Homo sapiens: one gene and its partners. The protein of the gene in region 2 purifies or fractionates together with the protein of the main gene of each other region. This does not show direct contact. Each region holds a gene or a part of one and is shown on either strand. Other genes may lie near its edges.

Region 1 (4,231 bases), on a different chromosome or scaffold from region 2:
TAGTCAATGCAATAAGGCAAAGAAAGGAAGAGAGGGAGGGAGGGAGGCAAGGAAAAAAGGAAGAAAGAAAGAAAGTGTGGCATAGTACACAATGAAATACCATTTGACCATAAAAAAGAAAGAAGTCATGTCATTTGTAGCCACATGGAGGTTGCTATATTAAGGTAAATAAGATAGGCACAGGAAGACAAATACCACATGTTCTTGCTCACATGTGAATGCTAAAGAACATTGATATCGTAGACATAGAGAATAGAATGATATATACCAGAAACTGAGAAGGGTGGTGGGTGGATGAAGAAAAGTTGGCTAATGGGTACAAACACACAGTTAGATAGAAGAAATAAATTTTAATGTCTTTTTTTTTTCCTTTTTGTGGAGAGAAGTCTCCATACGTTGCCCAGGATTGTCTCAAACTCCTGGGCTCAAGCAACCCTCCCAGTTTAGCTTCCTAAAGTGCTGAGATTACAGGTGTGAGCCACTGCACCTGGCAAGTTCTAATGTTTTATAGCATGATAAGGTGACTATACTTGGGTGACAATATTTAGCATATTTCAAAGTAACTATTAATAGAAGAGAGGACATGAAATGATACTGACACATAGAAAGGACATATATCCAAGGTGATGGATACCCCAGTTACCCTGACTTAATCATTACCCATTCTATGCATGCAACAAACACTCACATGTACGCCATAAATTATGTAAAATATTATATATTAATAAAAGAAAAAAAATTAGGCCGGGCATGGTGGCTCATGCCTTTAATCCCAGTACTTTGGGAGGCTGAGACAGGAGGATTGCTTGAGCCCAGGAGTTCCAGACCAGCTTGGGCAACATAGTGAGACCCCATCTCTACAAAAATAAAATATTAGCCAGGTGTGGTGGCACACGTCTGTGGTCACAGCTACTCGGGGCTGAGGTGAGAGGATTGCTAGGGGGCTGAGGTGAGAGGATTGCTTGGGGCCAGGAGGTGGAGGCTGCAATGAGCCATGATTGTGCCTCTGCACTCCAGCCTGGGTGACAGAGCAAGACCCTGTCTCAAAAAAATATATATGTCAAAAAATGTATATATGTGTATATATATATTTATGTGTATGTATATATGTGTGTGTGTGTATATATATATATGTTTAAGTTAAAGATGGGGGGAAAAAAAGGAAGGGGCATATAGATTGGAAAGGAAGTATTAAAACTTTGTTTCAGGTGACATGATCCTCTATGTAGAAAATTCTAGCCGGGTGTGGTGGCTCACACCTGTAATCCCAGCACTTTAGGAGGCTGAGGCGGGCGGATCACGAAGCCAGGAGATCGAGACCATCCTGCTAACATGGTGAAACCCTGTCTAAAAATACAAAAAAATTATCTGGGCCTGGTGGCGCGTGCCTGTAGTCCCAGCTACTCGGGAGGCTGAGGCAGGAGAATGGCGTGAGCCCAGGAGGTGGAGCTTGCAGTGAGCTGAGATACCGCCCCTGCACTCCAGCCTGGGTGACAGAGCGAGACTCCGTCTCAAAAAAAAAAAAAAAAAAAAAAGAAAAGAAAATTCCAAGAATGCCACAAAAAGGCTACTAGAATTAATAAGTGAGTTTAGCAAGGTTATAGGACACAGTACAAAGTCAAAATACAAAAATATGTTTTTTTTATATACTAGCAAAGTTCCATTGGAAATCTCTTAAAACAACATTTTCTATTATATGTACCTGCCAGTTCTTAACATTTATTATCAGAAGTAACTAATTAAATTATTCTTTGTCATTCTTCTAGGGGAACTTATGACATTTTAGTAACAAAAGATAATCAAACCCGCTCTGTTGGTCAATATGACAACCGTGGCAGTTTTGGAGAACTAGCTCTGATGTACAACACCCCGAGAGCTGCTACCATTGTTGCTACCTCAGAAGGCTCCCTTTGGGGACTGGTGAGTGAGAGAAATCGTTCCCCTTGCAAGGCACAGTATTAATTCCCTTTCTGTGTCTCTGTCCTTGGGCTGTTGATTTACACTATATCTTACAGCCATCCTGGCTAACACGGTGAAACCCCATCTCTACTAAAAAATACAAAAAAAATAGCCAGGTGTGGTGGTGGGCATGTGTAGTCCCAGCTAGTTGGGAGGCTGAGACAGGAGAATGGCGTGAACTCGGGAGGTGGAGCTTGCAGTGAGCCGAGATCGCGCCACTGTACTCCAGCCTGGGCGACACAGCGAGACTCCGTCTCAAAAAAAAAAGCACTTTATTGTGACATCCTGATGTTAAATTAAGAGTGCTCCTGAAAGAGATACAGTGACTTAAGGATAGGTCACACACTTGGGGACTCAATGATTGAAAAACTCAAGAATAGATTTGTATAGGGGAATAATAAATAATGGGGGCCAGGCACGGTGACTCACACCTGTAATCCCAGCACTTGGGGAGGCCAAGGCGGGAAGATCACTTGAGGTCAGGAGTTCGAGACCAGCCTGAGCAACATGGTAAAACCGTGTCTCTACTAAAAATATGAAAATTGGCCAGTCATGGTGATGGGCGCCTGTAGTCCCAGGAGGCGGAGGTTGCAGTGAGCCAAGATCACGCCACTGCACTCTAGCCTGGGCGACTGAGCAAGACTCCATCTCAAAAAATACAAAATCAAATAATAAGCCTTGGTGCTAACTACTGGTTCAGACCAAGATGGAATAGCCCTATTCCATGCTAGTGTTCTCACTTAAAAACTTAAACACACACACAAACAACTATGGACATAATAGAGCAAACATAGGAAGACTCTGAAAGGTGGAAAGAAGAAGGCAGACTATCTAGGGATATTGGGGCTTGAGGAAAGACATGACAGTGAGTTCCCAGGTTCCCATATATCCCAGATGGGGTGCTGGAAAGCCTGAAATCCAGATCTTCTAACAGGTATATTCAACAAAAGCAAAACTCCATCTCAAAAACAAAACAAAACAAAAGAACGAACAGCTAAACAGAAAATCAGCTAGTGTCAGCTAGGATATAGAAGAACTTAACACCATTAATTAACAAAAGCTATCTGAAATTTATAGAACACTGCACACAGCAACAACAGAATGAACATTTTTTTCAAGCCCATGGAACATTCACCCAAATAGGCCATATCCTGGAATATAAAATAAAACTTAAAAAATGTAAAAGATTTGAAATCAGGCCAACCACAGTGGCTCAAGCCTGTTATCCCAGCACTTTGGGAGGTTGAGGTGGGAGGATTGAGTCCAGGAATTTGAGACCTACCTGGGCAGCATAGTGAGACCACATCTCTATTTAAAATTTTAAGAAATAATGAAAATTTAAAGAAAAAATGAAATCAGAATGTGTTCTCTAACTACAATTGAAAGAAAGAAACTAAAAATCAATAACAGATCTCCAGACACTTAGAAATTAAATAACATTGTTTTTGGTGTGAGCAGGGGCTAACTGCAGCCTTGACCTCCTGAGCTCAAGCAATCCTCCCACCTCAGCCTCCCAAGTAGCTGGGACTACAGGTGTGCACCACCACACCTGTCTTTTTGTTGTTGTTGTTGTTGAGACAGAGTCTCACTATGTTGCTCAGGCTGGTCTTGAACTTCTGGGCTCAAGCAGTCCTCCTGCCTTGGCCTCCCAAAGTGCTGGAATTACAGGCATGAGCCACTGTGCCCAGCCAAATAACACATTCTTTCTTTTTTTTCTTTTTTGAGATGATCTTGGCTCACTGCAACCTCTGCCTCCTGGGTTCAAGCGATTCTCCTACCTCGGCCTCCTGAGTAGCTGGGATTACAGACGTGTGCACATGTGCCACCACGCCCAGCCAATTTTTGTATTTTTAGTAGAAATGGAGTTTCACCATGTTGGCCAGGCTGGTCTCGAACTCCTGACCTCAGGTGATCTGCCCACCTCGGCCTCCCAAAGTGCTGGGATTACAGGCAAGAGCCACCGCACCCGGCCAAATAACCCATTCTTGGATAATCTCTAAGACCAAGTCTCAATGAAAATTGAAAACTGTATATTGAGCTGTAAAACCACCTGCTTTGTGGCTGGGGTATGAGGATTAAATACATGGGCATAAGAGAAGTGACTCCCTTAGTGCCTGGTACAAGGTGGGTGTTCACAGAATGATGGCACAAGCTCCCCATGGCCATGGTGCTACTCACCACCCTTCTTTTCCTGAGACTTCCTTTCCTAAGACTCCTATTCTTTCTATTTCCTTGCCTTTGGCAGTCATTTCCTCTTCTCCTTGCTTTCTTA
Region 2 (5,200 bases):
ATCCAGTGCTATGGGGAAGTTCTGAGGGCCTTTAGAAGCTCTTGAAGTTTAAATCAGAAATTCACATTAAAGAGATTACAGGAAATCCTTTTCATTTGATTGTTTAAGGCAATTTCCTTTACCATTTCTTTAGGCCAGCCTGAGATCTTCTACAAGACCTTGAAACCTTATATATATTATGGATTTCCTCTGATGTTTCCATATTGCTCTGGGCATTTTCCTGAATCCTTTATATTAGCTCTAGACTTTGGGAGCCCAGTCCCTTCCTATTTTCCAAATCTAAATCTACAGCCCTAGATGGTACAGAGATCTTTGAGTTTTTAAGATATGATTTTTTGAAAAACATCTCATTAAATACTGGCAGAACCTTTTCATCTTGTTGAGTTTTTTAATGTACTGTAACCAAAAAAGTAGAATATTTTATCAAACTGTTTAATCTTCAATTGAAATAATTCTAGTACATTTTAATGTTCGCATTAAAATATTGTCCTTGCATTGGACGTAGATATCCCAAAAGTGGAATACTTCAGATTGTCGTAGTTTCATCTCTGAATAATTGTGATTCCAGTACTTTATAACAAAAATAGCTAGCATTATTGATTACTTTCTGTGTATCTGGTACTGTGGCAGATACTTTACTTGGATTTTAATACTTAATTTCACAGTAATTTAGTAATATGGCCCTGTTATCCTCATTTAGTGATTAGTAAACTAGGGCTGAAAACAGCTAACTAACTTGCCCGAGACTACATACCTAGTAAGTGGTGGAACGTAGGTTAAAATTCATTTTTCTTTGACTTCAAAGTCTGTGGTCTTACCTACTTACATTACTGCCCTTACGACTATGTGGGTATATATTTGTGTGTGTTCAAAACAAACTCAAAACCATCCTGTAGCGTAGCAAGTTAGTGGCTAAGATGAAGCTAGAGCATTTGCCTCCTCAATTCAATTCCATTACTTTCTGTTGTACCTTTATATTTTTTGGTAAGACTTTTACTTATTCTAAGTTCAAAAAATGTAATTTATTAGATGTTTGAGAAATTAAGTTTACCTAAATTTTAATGTTCATACTGTAGTGATTAGTTAATGTTTAATACGTTGTTATTCTGTCACCTTAGTGTATATATAAATGGCAAGAATTCACGGTTAGTTGAAAGCATTAAGGTCCCATAGTTTTGTGTAGACAAGAGGGGAGAGCGTTGATATTTTTAAATTAAATGCTTCTTAGATACGTATGAAATGGATTAAAACATGTATATGAGTTATAGATACCTAGGTGTTAGTTTGGTTGTAAATTCAGGATCAGGACATTCAAATAAATATGTTTGCTTTCCTCTTAGTGGAGGAAAAAAAAAAGAAGCTAAATTTGCTCCCTTTCCTCCCCAAATAAGCAGAGTCTACATTTTAATGCCAACAATTTGATTAAAACAAATATTTATTTACTTTTAATTCACCAAACTTTTATAAAGTATTTACTGGTGCCAGGCACTGTTCTAAAGCACTCTGTATATATTTACTCAGTCCTTAAGAGCTAAGTAATATTATCACGTTTCCATTTTAGAGAAAACTGAGGCACATATAGGTTAGGTTATCTACCCATAGCCATACAGCTAGTAAGTAGCAGAGCCATGATTTCAACACAGCAGCCTGACTATGGAGTTCATGATCTTAACCATTTACAGCTTAATTTTTATTATTTATAATTTCTCTTCTGGAAATGTAACAATTGACCATTTGAAGAAATACTTTAGGTAGCTTTGGATATTTGCTGTATTAAAGTAGTGAAAGTAATACAGACACTTGGCTGGGCGCGGTGGCTCACGCCTATAATCCCAGCATTTTGGTAGGTTGAGGCAGGCAGATCACCTAAGGTCAGGAATTCGAGACCAGTGTTGCCAACATGGTGAAACCCCGTCTCTACTAAAAATACAAAAATTAGCCGGGCGTGGTGGCAGGCGCCTGTAATCCCAGCTACTCGGGAGGCTGAGGCAGGAGAATCACTTGAACCCAGGAGGTGGAGGTTGCAGTGAGCTGAGACGACGCCATTGCACTCCAGCCTGAGAAACAAGAGAGAAACTCTGTCTCAAAAAAAATAAAGGAATACAGACTCTTAGAAAAATAATTACAAATAAAACCCTAGTGAAATTATAGGTATAGTTAGGTATAGTTGGCTTACAGGTGGGAAGTAGACCATTACCAACTGATAGACTGGGGAGCTGGAGAGAGGACACGGAAGAGTGTCCTTGGATTTTTCTTTTCCTTTAATTTTTTTGTAGAGGTGTTGGTTGGTGAGACTGTAACTTGAGGAGCTGTTGTGTGTGCTTTCAGAATGAGGCTCTCTAGATTGATAGTATTTTAGCAGTATTTCAGAATGCATAGGGTAGTGAAAATATAGGGAATCTTACAAGGTCTTCGGTTCCCTGCATATCTTGCTACGATTTGGAATAGAGTATTTATGGTGGAGCAGTTAGCTCTAAAATTTGAAGAAATGATATCCTATTTAAAAATAGCTCCCCATCCCAGTTACTGCCCTCCCCTCTTACCTACACAAACATACGTCTTGAAAATTGTCTATATTCATTGCCTCCTCCTCTTTACACCCTATTCACATTAGTATATCTGGCAAAAATTTTTTTTAACTGAATGGTAAATGCATGACTGACCTTTCAATTAAAGCCAGGAGAAAGAAACAAATCTTAATAGAAGAAATGAATAGTTACCCTTTGCTTAGGGAGCAAGGAAACATGCAAGTTAAATTCAGAAAATCCATTTGGAAAATTCAAGTAACATGAAGAATTTTTATTTGGTATGTTTGAATTTCTATGAAATTATGAAATAAGCCATATCCTCTTTCTAGGTGCTATCAGCTGCCTCAGCTGCAGGGGTTTCTGTAGCTTTTGGTGCACCAATTGGAGGAGTTCTTTTTAGCCTGGAAGAGGTAGGTGAAAAGAATACAACAATTAAAATTATATATAATTACCATTACAAATATATTTCACACATTTCAGTTTTGTAGGTGATGTAATAGGTAGAGACTTTGTTTTCAAATTTATTTTTCTAAAGTTGTTTTCCACTCATTCTTAATAAAAAGTAAATGTTATTCATGCTCCATACCTGGAGGAAACTTTTTAAAAATTTATTAATGTATGAATGTTAGTAATTATTTAAAATCTAACTTTGTTGACATATTTAAAAGTAAGAAGATGTGAATTTGACTTAATAGAGGACATGTGAAACAATCTATTTCCATTGGCTAAATTCTGTATTTTTAGTAGAGATGGAATTTCACCATGTTGGCCAGGCTGTTTTTTTGTGGGGTTTTTTTGTTTTGTTTTGTTTTGTTTTTGTTTTTGAGACGGAGTTTCACTCTTGTTGCCCAGGCTGGAGTGCAATGGCGCGATCTTGGCTCACTGCAACCTCCGCCTCCAGGGTTCAAGTGATTCTCCTGCCTCAGCCTCCCAAGTAGTTTTTGTTTAAAAAATTTTAATCAATTCCTATGTTGTGTTTTAAAGTTTTTCCCATGTGATTATTTCTGATACAGTTAGTGATGTTAAAGAAAATAATTTTAGTGACTTCAGTGGATTATTTTGTTTTTGTTTTCTTAATAGGTGTTTAAGACTTTTCTTTTTACATAAAAATGTAACCAGGAATTTTTTTTTAATTTTTTTTGACAAATAATAATTGTTTTTGTTTATGGGGTATAATGTGATGTGTCTATACATGTATACATTGCGGAATAATCAAATCAGAGTGATTAGCAAATCCCTCAAATATTTATTATGTCCTTGTGGTGGTGAGAACATTTAAAATCCTCTTTTAGCTATTTTGAAATATATAATACATATTATTAACTGTGGTCATCTTACTGTGCAATAGAACACCAGAACTTATTCCTCCTCTGTAAGTTCATACCCGTTGACTAATGTCTCCCCTTTCCCTGTTCACCTCCCCAACCCCTAGCCTCTGGTAACCCCTATTCTACTCTCTACTTCTATGAATTTAACTCTTTTAGTTCAAGATGTTTTTAAATGTACTTTTTTCTTTTAGTTGTTTGTATTCTTTTTTTTTTTTTAATGTAGAAGAGGCAAATTAAATGCATTATAAGTTAACAGGAGTTGGTGATGGTACATTTATTTTTAACTACCATGATTGAATTGAATGTGAAACTCATTTTGAATATAAAACAGCACTAGGTATTCTATTAGTATTTATTAGACATTTATGATCAATTGATACTGTCAATTTGTAATGATGATCACCATCTCCAAAAATAATAATAACATCAATTTTTCTTATTACAGTAAAATCCATTACATGTAAATTCTAACTACAGCAAAATTTAGAGCTAGGATATTTACCATTCAAGTTATAATATATCAGAAACATCTTATAAAATTATAGCATTAATTTTTCTTTTCCTTTTCTTTTTTTTAGGTTAGCTATTATTTTCCTCTCAAAACTTTATGGAGATCATTTTTTGCTGCTTTAGTGGCTGCATTTGTTTTGAGGTCCATCAATCCATTTGGTAACAGCCGTCTGGTCCTTTTTTATGTGGAGTATCATACACCATGGTACCTTTTTGAACTGTTTCCTTTTATTCTTCTAGGGGTATTTGGAGGGCTTTGGGGAGCCTTTTTCATTAGGGCAAATATTGCCTGGTGTCGTCGACGCAAGTCCACGAAATTTGGAAAGTATCCCGTTCTGGAAGTCATTATTGTTGCAGCCATTACTGCTGTGATAGCCTTCCCTAATCCATACACTAGGCTAAACACCAGTGAACTGATCAAAGAGCTTTTTACAGACTGTGGTCCCCTGGAATCCTCTTCTCTTTGTGACTACAGAAATGACATGAATGCCAGTAAAATTGTCGATGACATTCCTGATCGTCCAGCAGGCATTGGAGTATATTCAGCTATATGGCAGTTATGCCTGGCACTCATATTTAAAATCATAATGACAGTATTCACTTTTGGCATCAAGGTAAGTGCTAATGTGAGGTGATATTTGGGTAATTTTGGCATGTTCAAAACTTATATGTGGAATGAGAGAGGTTGTTGTTTCATAAATGACTGAAAAAAGTACTTATCTTTTGAGTTTAATTTTAAGTAATGAAAAAGATAATTCCTTAGCATATATTGTTGACCATGTTATCTGTTGCTATTTAACAAATTACCCCCCAAAACTTAGCAGCTTAAGGTAA
Region 3 (4,900 bases), on a different chromosome or scaffold from region 2:
AAAACTAAACTACGATTTCAAGCTCACAAAGAGGTCTAAGAAGCTTTTGAAACTAAGTGGTAGAAAATATTTTCATAAGAAGATCTGAGTCCTCAAGTGGTCTGAAAGCTCATTAAAAGTGTGAAAAAAAAAAGCCTTAAAAGTTTGTCAGCTGGGAAAAAAAAAAAGTCAGCTGGTTTGAGAGGCTAAATGCTAGAGTGAGAATAATAAGGCAAAAAGTATAGAGAACAACTGGGTACAGTATTTGGTAGTCATCCTCATTAGAAAGAAGACTTAAATCTATGAGGTATATTTGGTAGCTACCTGATTCAAGGTGTCTGCAGAAGAGAATGTTGTCTACCTTACAAAAAGCTTATCCGTTAACTGGTAAAATATAAAATCACGGTTTTAAATAAATATTCTTTGAAAACAAGTGAAAAAATTTTAAATCGTATTAAGCACACAAATTATTTAAATATTAAACCTAAAAATGAGATTTATATTCCTGTCCAAGAAGAGATAGGCTTCAAAATCTGACAGTGAGGGGCCTTCATTATTGAGGATTAACATTTCAAAGGAGAAGGGATGCATGTTTATATTAAAAGCCATTAAGAATAAAATTCAGTGTATGCCAATGAACTATACTATCTGTTTAATAAGCTTTAATATTAAATTTAATAGTAAATATACCTAAAAAGAATGTAACTTATTAATGAGACACGTAACCCCATTCACCAATATCATTTTGAAAACAGTAAAACCTAGTAAGTTTGATGTATTTTTAAATAAATCATTTTCAAACTACTAGGTATTCATACTAAAAATTAATTTTAATTTTTGGTTAACGTGTTAGTGACTATTTTCAAAAGTGGTGAATTGGATTCCTTTTTTATTGGAAGCGTCTATTTTTAAAAAGACATTTCTGGTATTAAATTATGCAAGACTAAAAGCTATTTTAAAAATTCATATTAAGCATTTCAAAGTGTATGTCCTTTAGCAATTATAATATATATCAAACCAGGAAGTCAAAGAAAATTCCAGTGTAATCTCTAAATTTAATATGACAGATAAATGAGACCACTGTTAAATAATAATCTGCCTTTTAAGGAGCATGAAAGGATAATGCAGAAACAGAAGCTGTGACTTGAGAATTTCACCACACATACTTAAATTAACTCAAATAGTACATTAGGGGTGTTTCTCTGACCCTTGCCAGTATCTTCAAAGTAATAATGTACCTCCTCACTTGAAAAACATGTTTTTAAGGAGTACTCTTCTCAATAACCTAAAATCAAAGCTATCAAGTAAAAATTCACATAAAGACAAGGAGGGGAAAGAACATTATTTCTGAGTGACAAAAATATTAAGGAGTAAAAATGGATAAAAGTACGCACTTGAGTCAGGTAGTACTGTGTTTCTCGGCTACTCAGTACTCCTGTAACCCTTGCATCAGTTTTCCCATCAGTAAAAGGGGATGATCACAATATTCACCTCACAGTATTGTAGTGAGAAGGAAATGAGACAATGCTCAAAGAGTGCTAACTTAGTGGCAGTCACACAGCACGCAGTTCAATCAATAACCTTGTGATGCAATTTCAAAGGTTCATTCCAAGAAAAATGCTTAATGCCCTTCTCATAAAAATGTCTCTATCCTACACTCACTTGTGGGAGAAAATGAAAAGCACAAACAAAAATAAAAATATTTTATTTTTCTCTTAAGGGCATAATTTTACTTATATAATTTTAGGATCATTTGGGGATAAGTATCAAATAAAAGCCGCACCCTACAGTTTTTAACAGTATGCCAATATTGTATGTGTGTTCAAACCTGAAAAAGAGGAAAACAGAAAATCCTTTAAACGCTTTTAAGTTTGGGGTTATTCATTATGACTAAATACACTATTATCTATTAAATAAAGTGTTACTACTGCCAGTCACAAATTTTATAATAAAGTATTTTAAAACATAAAAATAAAAAGGAAAGCAATTACCTTTGTACAATAAAGCATCCAAAGTTCAAAGAGCCTCTCTCTGGATGCCATTCTGGCTTTCACTCTGGCACTTTAAGTTTTCCTTAAAAAAATTATGTTCAAGACTACAGCATGTCCATTTTATTTTCCAAGTTTTTCAGCCGTTCAGTAAAGCTCATAGCAGTAAAGAAAGCAAAAAGAAGTGAAACAAATGGACTGTCCTCTGGTTAAAAACAAAAAGGCAATTTCAGCAGTCACTCCAATATATCTTCATCAGTGGTAGTTGGGCAATTAAATAAATCTGTGAAAGAGAAAAACATCCACAGGTTAGAAAAAGAGGCCATACTAAAAAATCTAGACTTATCAAAAACTAAAGATGTATCTTCTTCACTTCCCACAAACAACCCGCTATACTTTCACATGGACTGATTAGATTTCATAGAAACTTGTGTTTCAGGAAAACATCACAGCTAACACAGTATGTCCACCATAGAATCCTCTAGGGCAGACAGACTCCTAGAGATGGGTACATGTTCATAACCAAGAATGCGTCCAGTGAGAATAAGGAGCAAGACTCCCTTCCCACTCATACCTTTTGTACAGATACAAGGAAAAGGCCCACATCTCAGACATTTCAAATACATCAAAGCTCTTAGAATGTTCTTGTTCTGGTCTCCTCTTCAAAGTTGTTGGGGCCAGGCGCGGTGGCTCACGCCTGTAATCCCAGCACTTTGGGAGGCCCAAGTGCGTGAATCACCTGAGGTCAGGAGTTCGAGACCAGCCTGGCCAACACAGTGAACCCCTGTCTCTACTAAAGAAATACAAAAAATTAGCCGGGCGTGGTGGCGGGCACCTGTAATCCCAGCTACTCAGGAGGCTGAGGCAGGAGAATTGCTTGAACCCGGGAGGCAGAGGCTGCAGTGAGCCCAGATCACGCCACTGCACTCCAGTCTGGGCGACAGAGCAAGACTCCGTCTGGGGTGGGGTGGGGGTGGAGTAGTTGGGACTGTTTGCTGTGTTGCAGGGCAGGGCGTGGGGGCGGGGGAGGAATTCCCAGTTCGTTTGTTCTAACAATCCTCGGAGAGTGGAAGTCCACCCGCCCACCTGGCCTCTCCACCTTTCCATCCAAGAGAAGTGGGCACGCACACACCGGCGAGGAACTTCCCAAAGAAGCATCCAAGTGTTTGGGGGAATCTTTTAATTTCCTCCTCACATCCCAAGACAACCCAAACAGAGGCAAACTTAAGGTGTGCCGAGCTGCCAAGAGAAGCTCTAGAACTGAGGAATGCGGACTCGGCGTCTCCCGACCGCGATCCCAGCCTGCACTACAGTATCGGAACACTCCCTGACAGCCTAGCCCACTCAAAGCCGCCCCTCACTCTGCAGCCCCTCCACCACCAAGCACCGGGGCCCTCCCATTTCTTGCCATGCCGCCCCCTCTTCCCAACGGCCCGCTCCCCATCACCGGGCTCACATTGTGTGCCGCGCGGCAGCCGCCGCCCGGCAGCCGTCTAACTGCTTCCCTCGACCCCTTCCCAAGGCGAAGCCCCGTGTCACCCCGCAGCCAGGCAGACGAGCGGGCGGGACATGGGGGCGGGGCGAGAGGCCGGGAGGAGCAGGGGGCGGGGCTGCCCCCTGGGCTAATCATTTCGGCCGCTGAGGATTTACCCAGCCGTTGGGCGGCAGCTGTTCAATGGTCGCGTAGGCTGGGGATGGGCGGGGTGACCTGAAGCCCCGCCCCAGCATACCTGCGCAGCCGCAGTCGACAGGCTCTGGCTGCCCATCCCTTGGCGGGCGCCGGCCGCGGCACTGAAACGAGCCTTCCCTCAGCTGGACATGGAGGAGGGCTGACGTGCTGACGTCTACGCCCGCCCCGCTTTTCGCTGATGGCGTCATTTCCGTGAGTCATCTGAGGGCGTGAGACCCTACGGTGTTAAAGGGGATTTTGTTTCACTTATTTGTAGAACCGGGATTGGTTCTGGGAATTTAGAGTAATGTAAAAAGACAAAACACACACAGACACCCCCCAAAAACTCCTCTTTTCCTTTTGTGCCTGCTTTCGTCGTCACCGAGTGTCATATCCAAAGGGCTTATTTTACCACCACTAAAGACTTCGAAAGGGTTTTTCTTTTTCAGAAAAGAAGCAAAAGGCTTTACTAACTATAGACAACTTTCAGAGAGATTTGGTTTTTGTATAAGGAAAGAAAAACGCGTAAGATAACTCACCTTTGTTAAACATTTCCACAACTTTTTATTGTGAAAGATTTCAAGTATATTCTAAAGTAAACTAGTATAACGAAACCCTGTATACCGTCACCCAACTTCAAAAATGATCAACTAATGTCCCATCTTGTTTCATTTGTAACAAGGATCCACAAATTGCCTGTGAAGAGCCAGAGACGAGGCGCAGTGGCTATCGCCTGTAATTCCAGAATTTTGGGAGGTCTAGGCGGGCGAATCCCTTGAACCCAGGAGATCAGCCTGGGCAACAGAATGAGACCCTGTCTCTGCAAAAGAAATTTTAATTAGCTTGGCGTGGTGGTGCACGCCTGTAGTTCCAGCTACTTAGAAGCTAAGGTGGGAGAATCGCTTGAACCTGGGAGTGAAGGTTGCAGTGAGCTCCGATGGCGCCACTGTACTCCAGCCTGGGCGACAGAGCGAGACACTGTCTCAAAAAATAAAAATAAAATAAAAAGAGCCAGACAATAAATGTTATAGGCTTTGCAGTCCATTCTGGTTGCAACTTGCTTAACGAAAATCAAAAGAACAATATTTTGAGATGTGAAAATTAGACGAAATTCAAATTCAAGTTTCAGTGTCCTAAAATTTTAGTGGAACACAACCATGCCCATTCCTTTAGTATTGCCTATAGCTGCTTTCACTCTACCATGGCAGAATTGAGAGTAGTTGCTTGCAAATTACACCTTCAATTTTTTATCCTGAAATTACAT
Region 4 (4,231 bases), on a different chromosome or scaffold from region 2:
CTTCCCTGACCCCTGAACCTGGATACAAGCTGTGTCTTTGCCAGTCTGTGTCTTTGCCTTCTGCTGTAGGTCCAGCACCTACAGACCTAGAGCCAGGGCTGACATGACCTCGATGCTCAGAAACCATCTATTGAGTGAGCTGGATGCACGCTGAGCACAGCAGTGGGAGCAGGGCCTGAGACTGCCCACCTGAGTGGATGCATGTGTGTGATGTCTACGTGCTAAGGCAAGACAGGAAGTAGTTCCAAGGGCCTGAGTCAATGTGTCTGTGGGACAGCTGAATCCATGCATGGGGAAAAGGGGGTGTACCCATCTGCCGGTGACATTGGATGTGGCAGGGTCCCAGCCAAGGCTTCCTTCCTCTCACTCGGCCTCATGGAGGGGCCATCTTTTCTCCAAGTTTTTTCAGGCTACTAGACCTTTGCTTTAGCTATTCCTTCCCCTCGGTGCACTGCCCCTGGGCTCCCATCTCTTCAGTCTAGAGGCGATGGAAGTATTCAATATCTATGCTGTCCAATATGGCAGCCACCAGCCACACTGGCTTTTGAGCACTGGATACAGGATGGTGCAAGTCAGAGGCTAAATTTGCAATTGTACTTCATTTGAATTAAAATTTTTAAAAAATTGTTGTTTTGTCTTTGAAGCAGAGTCTCGGTCTCTCGCCCACGTTGGAGTGCAGTGGCTTGATCTCGGCTCACTGCAACCTCTACGTCCCAGGTTCAAGCAATTCTACTGCCTCAGCCTCCGGAGTAGCTGGGATTACAGGTGCCTGCCACCACGTCCGCTAATTTTTTGTATTTTTAGTAGAGATGGGGTTTTGCCATGTTGGCCAGGCTGGTCTCGAACTCCTAACCTCAGGTGATCCACCCCCACCCCCCCTCGGCCTCCCAAAGGGCTGGGATTACAGGCGTGAGTCACCGTGCCCAGCCGGAATTAAAATCAAAATTTAAATAGCTGCATAGGGCTAGAGACTAGTGATGGATAGAACATTCTAGAAGCTCTCCTGGATCTCCTGTCATACCAATCTAAAGCAGGGGTCCCTCTGCAACCTTCCACTCTTCCTTCATACCTGTTACAAGTAGGTCATTGGTCATGGGATGTCTGTTCCTGTGCCATCCTTGCCCACAGGCCTTGGACGGATCATGCACACCTGATTTTCCTCCATGCCCAGAACCCAGCACAGATCTTGGCCCTTAGATATATCTGCTGAAAGAATCCTATCTACCTGCCACTTCCGCATCCTGCTCTGTCCCCTGACCCTTGCAGCTTGCAGGGAAACCACTGTTCCCAGCCACCCTACTAAACTGAGGACAGAGGGGTTAGGAGCACGGCTTCTGGAATCAGACAGCCCTGGGTTGAGCCCAGTTTTACTGCTCAGAAGCTAACCTGGGCCGGGCACAGTGGCTCACGCCCGTAATCCCAGCACTTTGGGAGCCTGAGGTGGGCGGATCACAAGGTCAGGAGTTTGAGACCAGCCTGGTCAACATGGTGAAACCCCATCTCTACTAAAAATACAAAAATTAGCCAGGCATGGTGGCGTGTGCCTATAATCCCAGCTACTCAGTAGGCTGAGGCAGGAGAATCGCTTGAACCCGGGAGGCAGAGGTTGCAGTGAGCCGAGATTGCACCACTGCACTCCAGCCTGGGTGACACAGCGAGACTCCGTCTCAAAAAAAATAAATAAATAAAGAAGCTAACCTTGGGCAGGGTCAGAGGGAGTCGGGGGCATGGCTGGGGGCTGGGGTCAGGGTTGGGTTTTTAGAGGTCCGCCATAGGAATGGGGCCAGCTGAGGATCACCATGTTAATGGCAACGTCCCAGGGTCAATGACAAGGTCATTGAAACTGTATGACTTAGCTGGGTTCAGTGGCTCATGCCTGAAATCCCAGCACCTTGGGAGGCCAAGGCAGGTGGATCACCTGAGGTCAGGAGTTCGAGACCAGCCTGGCCAACGTGGTGAAACCCCATCTCTAGTAAAAATACAAAAATTAGCCAGGTGTGGTGGCACGTGCAAGTAATCCCAGCTACTCAGGAGGCTGAGGCACAAGGATCGCTTCAACTCAGAAGGTGGAGGTTGCAGTGAGCCGAGATCATGCCATTGCACTCCAGCCTGGGCCACAGGGTAAGATTCCATTTCAAAAAAAAAATAATAATAATAGGCTGGGTGTGGTGGCTTACGCCTGTAATCCCAGCACTTTGGGAGGCCAAAGTGGGAGGATCACTTGACCTCAGGAGTTTGAAACCAGCCTGGGTAACACAGTGAGACCCTTGTCTCTAATAAAATAAAGAACAATACTTTAATAATAAAATAAAATAGGCCGGGCGTGGTGGCTCACGCCTGTAATCCCAACACTTTGGGAGGCCAAGGCAGTAGATCTCCTGAGGCCAGGAGTTTGAGACCAGCCTGACCAATGCGGTGAAATGCCATCTCTACTAAAAATACAAAAATTAGCTGGACGTGGTGGCGTGTGCCTGTAGTCCCAGCTACTCAGGAGGCTGAGACAGAATTGCTTGAACCCGGGAGGTGGAGGTTGCAGTGAGTCAAGATCGCACCACTGCACTCCACCCTGGGTGACAGAGCAAGACTCCGTCTCAAATAAACAAATAAATAAATAAACTCTATGACTCGGTTGCCCTGTTGGCAAAGACTGACTCAGGCCCCCTCCTGGCCCAAGCCCACCTTGACATCCCCCTGCGCCCCCCAGTTCTGAACCACCCTCTTTTTGGTTTCATAGAGTCTCCCATATTCTCTCCTGGGTCTTCTCTGTTCACCCTGCGGTGTCCCCAAGACCCCCTCATGGCAGACTCCAGGGCACCCAGAGCCCGAGCTCAGGGCTGGGTGCATGCGGCTGACCTTGATGGTGTCGTAGGCGCCGGTGATGAGCGCGATGAAGAGGCTGAGCACCATGTAGATGAAGAGGCTGATGAAGGAGTAAAGGTAGAGCTGGGAGAAGAGCCACACCAGGCTGCTGCGGCCCTGCTGCGCCTGCATGGCGGCGAACGTCACAAACATGTCGTCCCCATTGATGAGCGAGAACAGGCACTCAGACACCATGGAGAGTGAGCGGAACTGCCAGAGGGGCGGCGGGGTCAGAGGGAGCCAAGGCATGGCCAGGAACCGGGGGCTGGGGTCAGGCTGGGGTCCCATGCAAATGGCTAGGAGCTGGTGGCTGGGGCCCCACATGAATGGCCGGGTCCCGGGCTGCGGTCACCATGTGAATGGTCGGGTTCCAGGCTAGGGCCCCTGTGAATGGCCGGGTCCCAGGCTGGGGTCCCACGTGAATGGCCGGGACCCAGGCTGGGGTCCCACGTGAATGGCCGGGTCCCAGGCTGGGGTCACTATGTGAATGGCCAGGTCCCAGGCTGGGGTCCCATGTGAATGGCCGGGACCACGGGTCAATGACAGGGCCACAGGGCCGACCTAGGGTCTGGGTAGATAGAGCAGGAGGGGAGTAATTCAGGTCGAAATAGGGTCATCAACAACTGTGACAACAATAATGGCACAGGGTCAGTGTCAGGGTCACCAAGGACCACAGGGGACAGTGGACAGACTCCCAGCAGTCACCAAGGGGTCATCTGGGGGTCACAGTGTCAATGACAAGGTCACAGGGTCAATGTCAGGGACATCAGGGGTTAGATGTACCTTCACATGATAGGGCCCCAGCACGATCCAGCCACAGAAGCAGTAGCCCAGGTAGATGACAGCCACGCAGCAGCAGAAGCGCATGACGCTGGGCAGGGCCACCCGCAGTGTGGCGATGAGGATCTGGGTTGGGGCAGAGGGAGCCTCGTTGAGGGTGTGGCCACAACTCAGGTCAGCTGTGGGCACCCAGATGGGGGTGGGAGGGGCGGGGCCTTGCCGAGGGCACAGCCGGTGTGGTCATGGGAGCCAGTGGGTGCCTAGAGGGGGCGTGGCCACGTCTGAGGGGGTCCGAGGGCAACGCACGGCTAGACTCAGCTGGGTGGGCACAAAGGAGCAGGCTCCCGGGGCCCCGCGCAGGTGCAGTGACAGATATATCTGGTGTGGGCAGGTAGGAGGAGGAGGCTTGCAAGGGGCCATTGGCCGGGGCTGGTGAGGGCTGCGTGTGTAGGGATTTATTTGGAGGGTGTGGAGTAACCATGTGGAAGGCCCAGCTGCATGTGCAAAACTCACATTGTAGTTGTGGAAGAAGGTCAGGTAGCGGATCACGCCCACCCACACCAGCAGCGTCGAGGTGCCCAGGAGGATGCTG

The links. The genes of interacting proteins can lie anywhere in the genome.
Region 1: the proteins of CLCN3 (region 2) and PRKAR2A fractionate together in Homo sapiens (co-fractionation; one large-scale study listed by BioGRID). This does not show direct contact.
Region 3: the proteins of CLCN3 (region 2) and NBEAL1 fractionate together in Homo sapiens (co-fractionation; one large-scale study listed by BioGRID). This does not show direct contact.
Region 4: the proteins of CLCN3 (region 2) and MCOLN1 fractionate together in Homo sapiens (co-fractionation; one large-scale study listed by BioGRID). This does not show direct contact.

The regions. Positions count from the first base shown.
Region 1 is NC_000003.12:48,770,644-48,774,874, reverse strand, and holds part of PRKAR2A (cAMP-dependent protein kinase type II-alpha regulatory subunit), read left to right. Parts: intron 1-1,766; coding exon 1,767-1,920; intron 1,921-4,231. UniProt on the Homo sapiens protein: Regulatory subunit of the cAMP-dependent protein kinases involved in cAMP signaling in cells. Type II regulatory chains mediate membrane association by binding to anchoring proteins, including the MAP2 kinase.
Region 2 is NC_000004.12:169,692,755-169,697,954, forward strand, and holds part of CLCN3 (H(+)/Cl(-) exchange transporter 3), read left to right. Parts: intron 1-2,857; coding exon 2,858-2,938; intron 2,939-4,434; coding exon 4,435-4,980; intron 4,981-5,200.
Region 3 is NC_000002.12:203,013,506-203,018,405, reverse strand, and holds the start of NBEAL1 (neurobeachin-like protein 1), read right to left. Parts: upstream 3,532-4,900; 5' UTR 3,424-3,531; intron 2,689-3,423; exon of another isoform or gene 2,542-2,688; intron 2,251-2,541; 5' UTR 2,022-2,250; coding exon 1,971-2,021; intron 1-1,970.
Region 4 is NC_000019.10:7,529,124-7,533,354, reverse strand, and holds part of MCOLN1 (mucolipin-1), read right to left. Parts: coding exon 4,153-4,231; intron 3,766-4,152; coding exon 3,643-3,765; intron 3,070-3,642; coding exon 2,854-3,069; intron 1-2,853. UniProt on the Homo sapiens protein: Nonselective cation channel probably playing a role in the regulation of membrane trafficking events and of metal homeostasis. Acts as a Ca(2+)-permeable cation channel with inwardly rectifying activity.